2 separate regions of the Homo sapiens genome follow, and region 1 is linked to region 2. A link means that fine-mapping ties the variant in region 2 to the expression of a gene that starts in the linked region. Tissue or cell type: subcutaneous fat. Region 2 holds a variant in brackets; the other region holds the start of a gene. All regions are shown on one strand. Distances are from middle to middle. Region 1 holds the start of THSD7B (thrombospondin type 1 domain containing 7B). Region 2 overlaps THSD7B (thrombospondin type 1 domain containing 7B).

Evidence for each region.
Region 1: THSD7B starts here. The variant in region 2 is fine-mapped to the expression of THSD7B in subcutaneous fat (GTEx, PIP 0.94).

Annotation. Positions count from the first base shown.
Region 1 is chr2:136,764,040-136,766,945 of GRCh38, reverse strand. THSD7B (thrombospondin type 1 domain containing 7B) reads right to left here and starts at 1,401. Exons shown (of 28, transcript NM_001316349.2): 1 at 1,259-1,401. RefSeq lists an enhancer at 918-1,419.
Region 2 is chr2:136,911,671-136,914,576 of GRCh38, reverse strand. The region is part of intron 2 of THSD7B (thrombospondin type 1 domain containing 7B); the gene reads right to left. Among named protein-coding and RNA genes, the nearest start is that of THSD7B, 150 kb to the right of the region's middle. The variant G/A (reference allele first, on the strand shown) is at 1,392.

The DNA of each region.
Region 1 (2,906 bases), 150 kb after region 2:
CCTACCTGCATGGGTTACCATTTCCATGATAACAGAGCACTCACAGGTGTACCGCTGAGAAACACCAGGCAGACCGTCATTTAAAGAGCTCCAAGGAGTCTGAGGGTGGGAAACTGCCGGCTTTCAGCAGACCACCCTGGCAATGAACAGAGCGCCAAGGAACCCTGGTATCTTCCGTAGAATATGCCACGGTCCCATAATCTTAGTGGAACTTCACCTTGACTGTACAGTATTGAATCGCAATACCTCTTATGGGAAGCTCTGAGCTCAGACATTCCAAAAGAAAAAAGTACCACCTTCGCCAACGAAAGTTTTTTTCTTGTCTTTAAAAAGGGATAGAGTGAGAGAGCTTAACGCCCCCTCCTCAACATTCCCTCGTCCCCTGCAAAGTTTTCCAACTTCAAAATACGCGGTCACCAAAGAGCGGGGTTCATTTGCTTATTCAAATAACTTTAATACTATGGGACATGTAAGACAGCAAAGGGGACAGGTGCAGATGGGCGATGCAGTAGAAAATATGCCTGTCCCCCCCTCCCTGCCCCTCACTCTCAAGCCCCGTTCCCAGTTTCCTCTCCACAAACAGCAGGATATCACGTCCGAGCCCAGCTTGCCCCTAGCCACTCGCAGGGACAGGGGAAATGTAAACTGTTGCTACAGCCTCCTGACACTCCACCGATAAATCAGAGGAAGCTGCAAAACTTCTTGGCTTGCTCAGCTATCCTCCACTGGCACTGAACGCCTATGCACAGATTTCGCAGTCAGCGCTACGGGAAAGGAAACCCTCAGTCAACCTGTTTGCAAAGCCTGCAGAACAACTCCCGGCCTTTCGATTTTGGGCGCCGAGGCTCTCCGCGCAGGACGGGAAACCCCCGGTTTCCTTCATCAGTATCCCTCAAACCAAGCTGGAGGTGAAGGGAACAGAGCTCCTGCTGCCCGGGTCCCAAGGTTCGGTCCCGTTGCATGAGGTCGGTGCTCAGGTCGCCGCGTGGGGCGTCCCCGCCCGCCTAGAGGGTCTCCGCACACTGCGCCCCGGGCAGCCCACGCTTCCCGCAGCCCCAAGCCAGAGGCGTCCGAGAAGATCCGCTTCCAAGTTCCCGCGTCTGGCTGGGAGAAGGGGCGACGATGGCTGTCCGGCGAGGAAAGAGCAAAGTCTGCGCCGGCAGCGCGCCCCCTTCCCCGGCGCTGCCACCCCGCGCCCCAGTCGGCCGGCCAGGGGGCCCGGCATCCCCGACTCGGGGCTCCGCGTGCTTGCACTCACCCGTCTCGCCAGAGCCGCCGCCGTAACCTCTGGGAGCCGCTGAGCCCCGAGCTTCCCGAGCGCAAGAAAGATGGTGGTGTGTGTCGGAAGACCACCCATTCCAGCGTCTGGCAACCCGGCGGCGACTCTGGCTCCTCAGCACTGAAGGAGGAGGAGGAGGAAGAGAAGGAGGAGGAGGAAGAGAAGGAGGAGGAGGAGGAGGAGGAAGGAACGGCGCAGTCAGACGCCATCTGCTGTACACCTCTGCGCAGCCATTGGCTGCCTGGTGCGTCCGAGAGCCGCGGGGCGCGGGGCCGCGGGGAGCCACCTTGCGCCTCGCCTACCCCGGCAGCTGTTCCCCACCGCCCCCTCTTTCTCCCCCCTCTCCTCCGCCTCCTACCGCCTCTGCCGCGCACCCGCACGACCCTCGGCTCAGCCTGCTCCCCAAGGCGAGCGACCGCGGGCGCGCTGGCCTGGACCTCAGTTCCTCTGCTCCCCGCAACTGTTTGCCGCAACTTTGAAGCTTCGGGGTGCCGGTGCGGGCTGGGTAAGGGGACTCCCCAGCTGAGCTCAGCCCGGAGTACCCAAGCCACTGAGCCCAGGAGAGGGTCGAGCGCTTTGCGCCTCGGAGGTCCATGAAGTGATGGGGGAAGAGAGCAAGAAAGAGTGGGGGTGCCCTAGGCCCCTGTTGATAACGCGCCCCAACACGCACACATGCGCGACACTCCGACACACAGTAAAACACACACACCGAGCCATCCCGCAAGGTCCGGATGGTCTGGCGTTCCTCTGCAGTCCCCGGGCACGAGAGGGCTTCGGTGTTACTAGGAGAAAAGACAAAGAAAATCCTATCTGGGGAGTACCCCTAGCAGCATACGTGGGGGAGAGAGAAAGGGAAACATTGTGGTGACTCCGGGAAACGCCGGGAGCTGGGTGCATACCTGCCTGGACATCCCCCCTGTTGCGGGGCTCCCAGCGACTGTCAGCCCACGCCCACCAGAGCCTGGGAAAACCCCTAGCTCTGGGGCCTCTGTTTAAAGGATTTGCAGTCCCGGGGCGCGGGGACCGGAGTTGCGGGAAGGAGCGCCTTAGGCTCCTGGGTAGCTCATGCCGGAAGCAGCAAAGGAGGTGGAGAGTCCGAGTCAGCCCAGGTGAGGCAGGAGTGCAGACAGCGGAGAGCACGTGGGCAGTCGAGGAGCAGAGTCACAGCTCAGAAAGTCGTTTGCTTACTCTCTGACACTTGTTCCAAACCCTTCTGGTTTTTGACACCTTTGATCTAGGGAACTTCTTAAGCTTGTTCAGAGAGATGAAGTTGCTTCAAAAGGGAGAAGGGGCGGGGGGAAGCATGAGGACTACCTATTGCCAATTACAGGATATTTTGCCTGTCAAATCTCTTTAAATGTGTGAGCCCAGCGACAGCAGGGATTGTATCTTTTCTATTTTATCCAATGCCTGGCACACCATGGGTGCTTAAAATGAAGCAAAATAATAATGATAAAATTAAAGCTTGATGTCATAGAGCAAATTAGATTCAAGAGATAAATAGAGAAGCTAGGATCTGTCACAGATAAAAAGAAATCAAAAGAATGTAAGTGCCATTGTAAAGAAAGATGTGAATATATTGGTAAGGGGCTTCAACTCAGCTTGCTGTGGGATGATGGGTTCTGAA
Region 2 (2,906 bases):
GGCTCCCATGATTCAATTACCTCCCAACAGGTCTCTCCCACAAAATGTGGGAATTCTGGGAGATACAATGCAAGTTGAGATTTTGGTGGGGACACAGCCAAACCATGTCATTCCAACCCTGGTCCCTCCCAAATCTCATGTCCTCACATTTTAAAACCAATCATGCCTTCCCAACAGTCTGCCAAAGTATAAACTCATTTCAGCATTAACTCAAAAGGCCATAGTCTAATGTCTCATCTGAGACAAGTCACTTCTGCCTATGAGCCTGTAAAATCAAAAGCAAGCTAGCTAACTTCTAGATACAATGAGGGTACAGGTATTGGGTAAATACAGCTATTCCAAATGGGAGAAATTGGCCAAAACAAAGGGATTACAGGGCCCACGTATGTCCGAAATCCAGTGGGGCAGTTGAATTTTGAAGCTCCAAAATGATCTCCTTTGACTCCAGGTCTCACATCCAGGTTACGCTGATGCAAGAGGTGGGTTCCCATGGTCTTGGGCAGCTCCACCCCAGTGGCTTTAAAGGGTACAGCCTCCCTCCCGACTGCTTTCATGGGCTGGTGTTGAGTGTCTGTGGCTTTTCCAGATGCATGGTTCAAGCTGTCAGTGGATCTACAATTCATGGGTCTGGAGGATGGTGGCCCTCTTCTCACAGCTCCACTAGGCAGTACCCCACTAGGGACTCTGCATGGGGGCTCCAACCCCACATTTCCCTTCTGCACTGCCCTAGCAGAGGTTCTCCATGAGGGCCCTGCCCTTGCAGCAAAATTTGCCTGGGCATCCAGGTGTTTCCATACATCTCCTGAAATCTAGGCAGAGGTTTCCAAACCTTAATTCTTGACTTCTGAGTACCCACAGGCTTGATACCACATGGAAGTTGCCAAGGTTTGGGGCTTCCACCCTCTGAAGCCCCAGCCCAAGCTGTACATTGGCTCCCTTCAGCCATGGCTGGAGAGGCTGGGAAACAAGGCACAAAGTCCCTAGGCTGCATGCAGCATGGGGATCCTGGGCCTGGCCCATGAAACCACTTTTTCCTCCTGGGCCTCCAGGCCTGCAATGGGAGGGGCTGCCATGAAGGCCTCTGACATGGCCTGGAGACATTTTCCCCTTGGTCTTGGGGATTAACATTAGGCTCCTTGCTACTTACGTTAAGTTTCTGCAGCTGGCTTGAATTTCTCCCCAGAAAGTGAGTTTTTCTTTTCCATTGCATAGTCAGGTTGCAAATTTTCTGAACTTTTATGCTCTATTTCCCTTTTAACACTGAATGTCTTTAACAGTACCCAAGTCACCTCTTGAATGCTTTGTTCCTTACAAATTTCTTCCACCGGATGCCCTAAATCATCTCTGTCAAGTTCAAAGTTCACAAATCTCTAGGGCAGGGGCAAAATGCC[G/A]ATAGTCTCTTTGCTAAAATGAAACAAGAGTCGCCTTTGCTCCAGTTCCCAAAAAGTTCCTCATTTCCATCTGAGACCACTTCAGCCTTCATTTTTGTTGTCCATATCACTATCAGCATTTGGCACAAAGCCATTCAACAAGTCTCTAGGAAGCTCCAAACTTTCCTACATTTTCCTATCTTCTGAGCCCTTCAAACTCTTCCAATCTCTGTCTGTTACTCAGTTCCAAAGTCGCTTCCACATTTTTGGGTATCTTTTCAGCAACGCCCCACTCTACTGGTACCAATTTACTGTATTAGTTCATTTTCATGCTGCTGGTAAAGACATATCTGAGACTGGGAAGAAAAAGAGGTTTAATTGGACTTACTGTTCCACATGACTGGGGAGGCCTCAGAATCATGGCAGGAGGTGAAAGGTACTTCTTACATGGCAGCACCAAGAGAAAATGAGGAAGAAGCAAAAGCAGAAACCCCTGATAAACCCATCAGATCTTGTGAGACTTATTCATTATCACAAGAATAGCAGGGGAAAAACTGGCCCCCATAATCCAATTACCTCCCACTGGGTCCCTCCTACAACACGTGGGAATTCTGGGAGATACAATTCAAGATGAGATTTGGCTGGGGGCACAGCTAAACCATAACAATTAATAATATTATTATGACCTATTTACAGGTGATAAAACCAAAGCAAATAGAGCTTGAATCAACTGCCCAGAGTAACACAGCAGGAAAGCACACATACCACTGTGTTAAACCCTTTAGTTTCTCCCTCCTTTTTTTGAGAGGGAGTCTCGCACACATACCACTGTGTTAAACCTTTTAAGTTCCTCTCTCCTTTTTTTTTTTTTTTTTTTTTTTTTTTGAGATGGAGTCTCGCTCTGTCACCCAGGCTGGAGTGCAGTGGCACTATCTCAACTCACTGCAACCTCCACCTCCCAGGTTCAAGCAATTTCCCTGCCTCAGCCTCATGACTAGCTGGGATTATGGGCGCCCACCAGCACACCCGGCTAATTTTTGTATTTTTAGTAGAGATGGGGTTTTGCCATGTGTGCCATGTTGCCCAGGCTGGTCTAGAACTCTTGACCTTAGGTGATCTGCCCACCTTGGCCTCCCAAAGTGCTGGGATTACATGAGCCACTGCACCTGGCCCCTCCTTTCTTCCTCCCTCTTTCCCTTCCTGCATTCCGCTATCCAACAGCCCATCAATCCATCAGTAATGCACAGACCTGCTATTCATCCATCCATCCATCTATCCATTTATCCATCTGTCCCTCCCCTCATCTAGCTATCAACCATGGAGTAGATGGAAAGGAAGAAGGAATTAAAGCATATGTCTAGAAATTTGGAATTTAACTAATTCAAATATATCCGTAGGATTTGGTGGCTGTAAAGCGCTCTCTTGTAGTAGTAGTAGCATGGCATGCATTATTAAAGAAACTGTGATTTGAATGAGTGTCAGTTTCTCAAAATGCAGAGACTAGCTCTATTCAAGAATCACAGCAGAGTAGAAGGT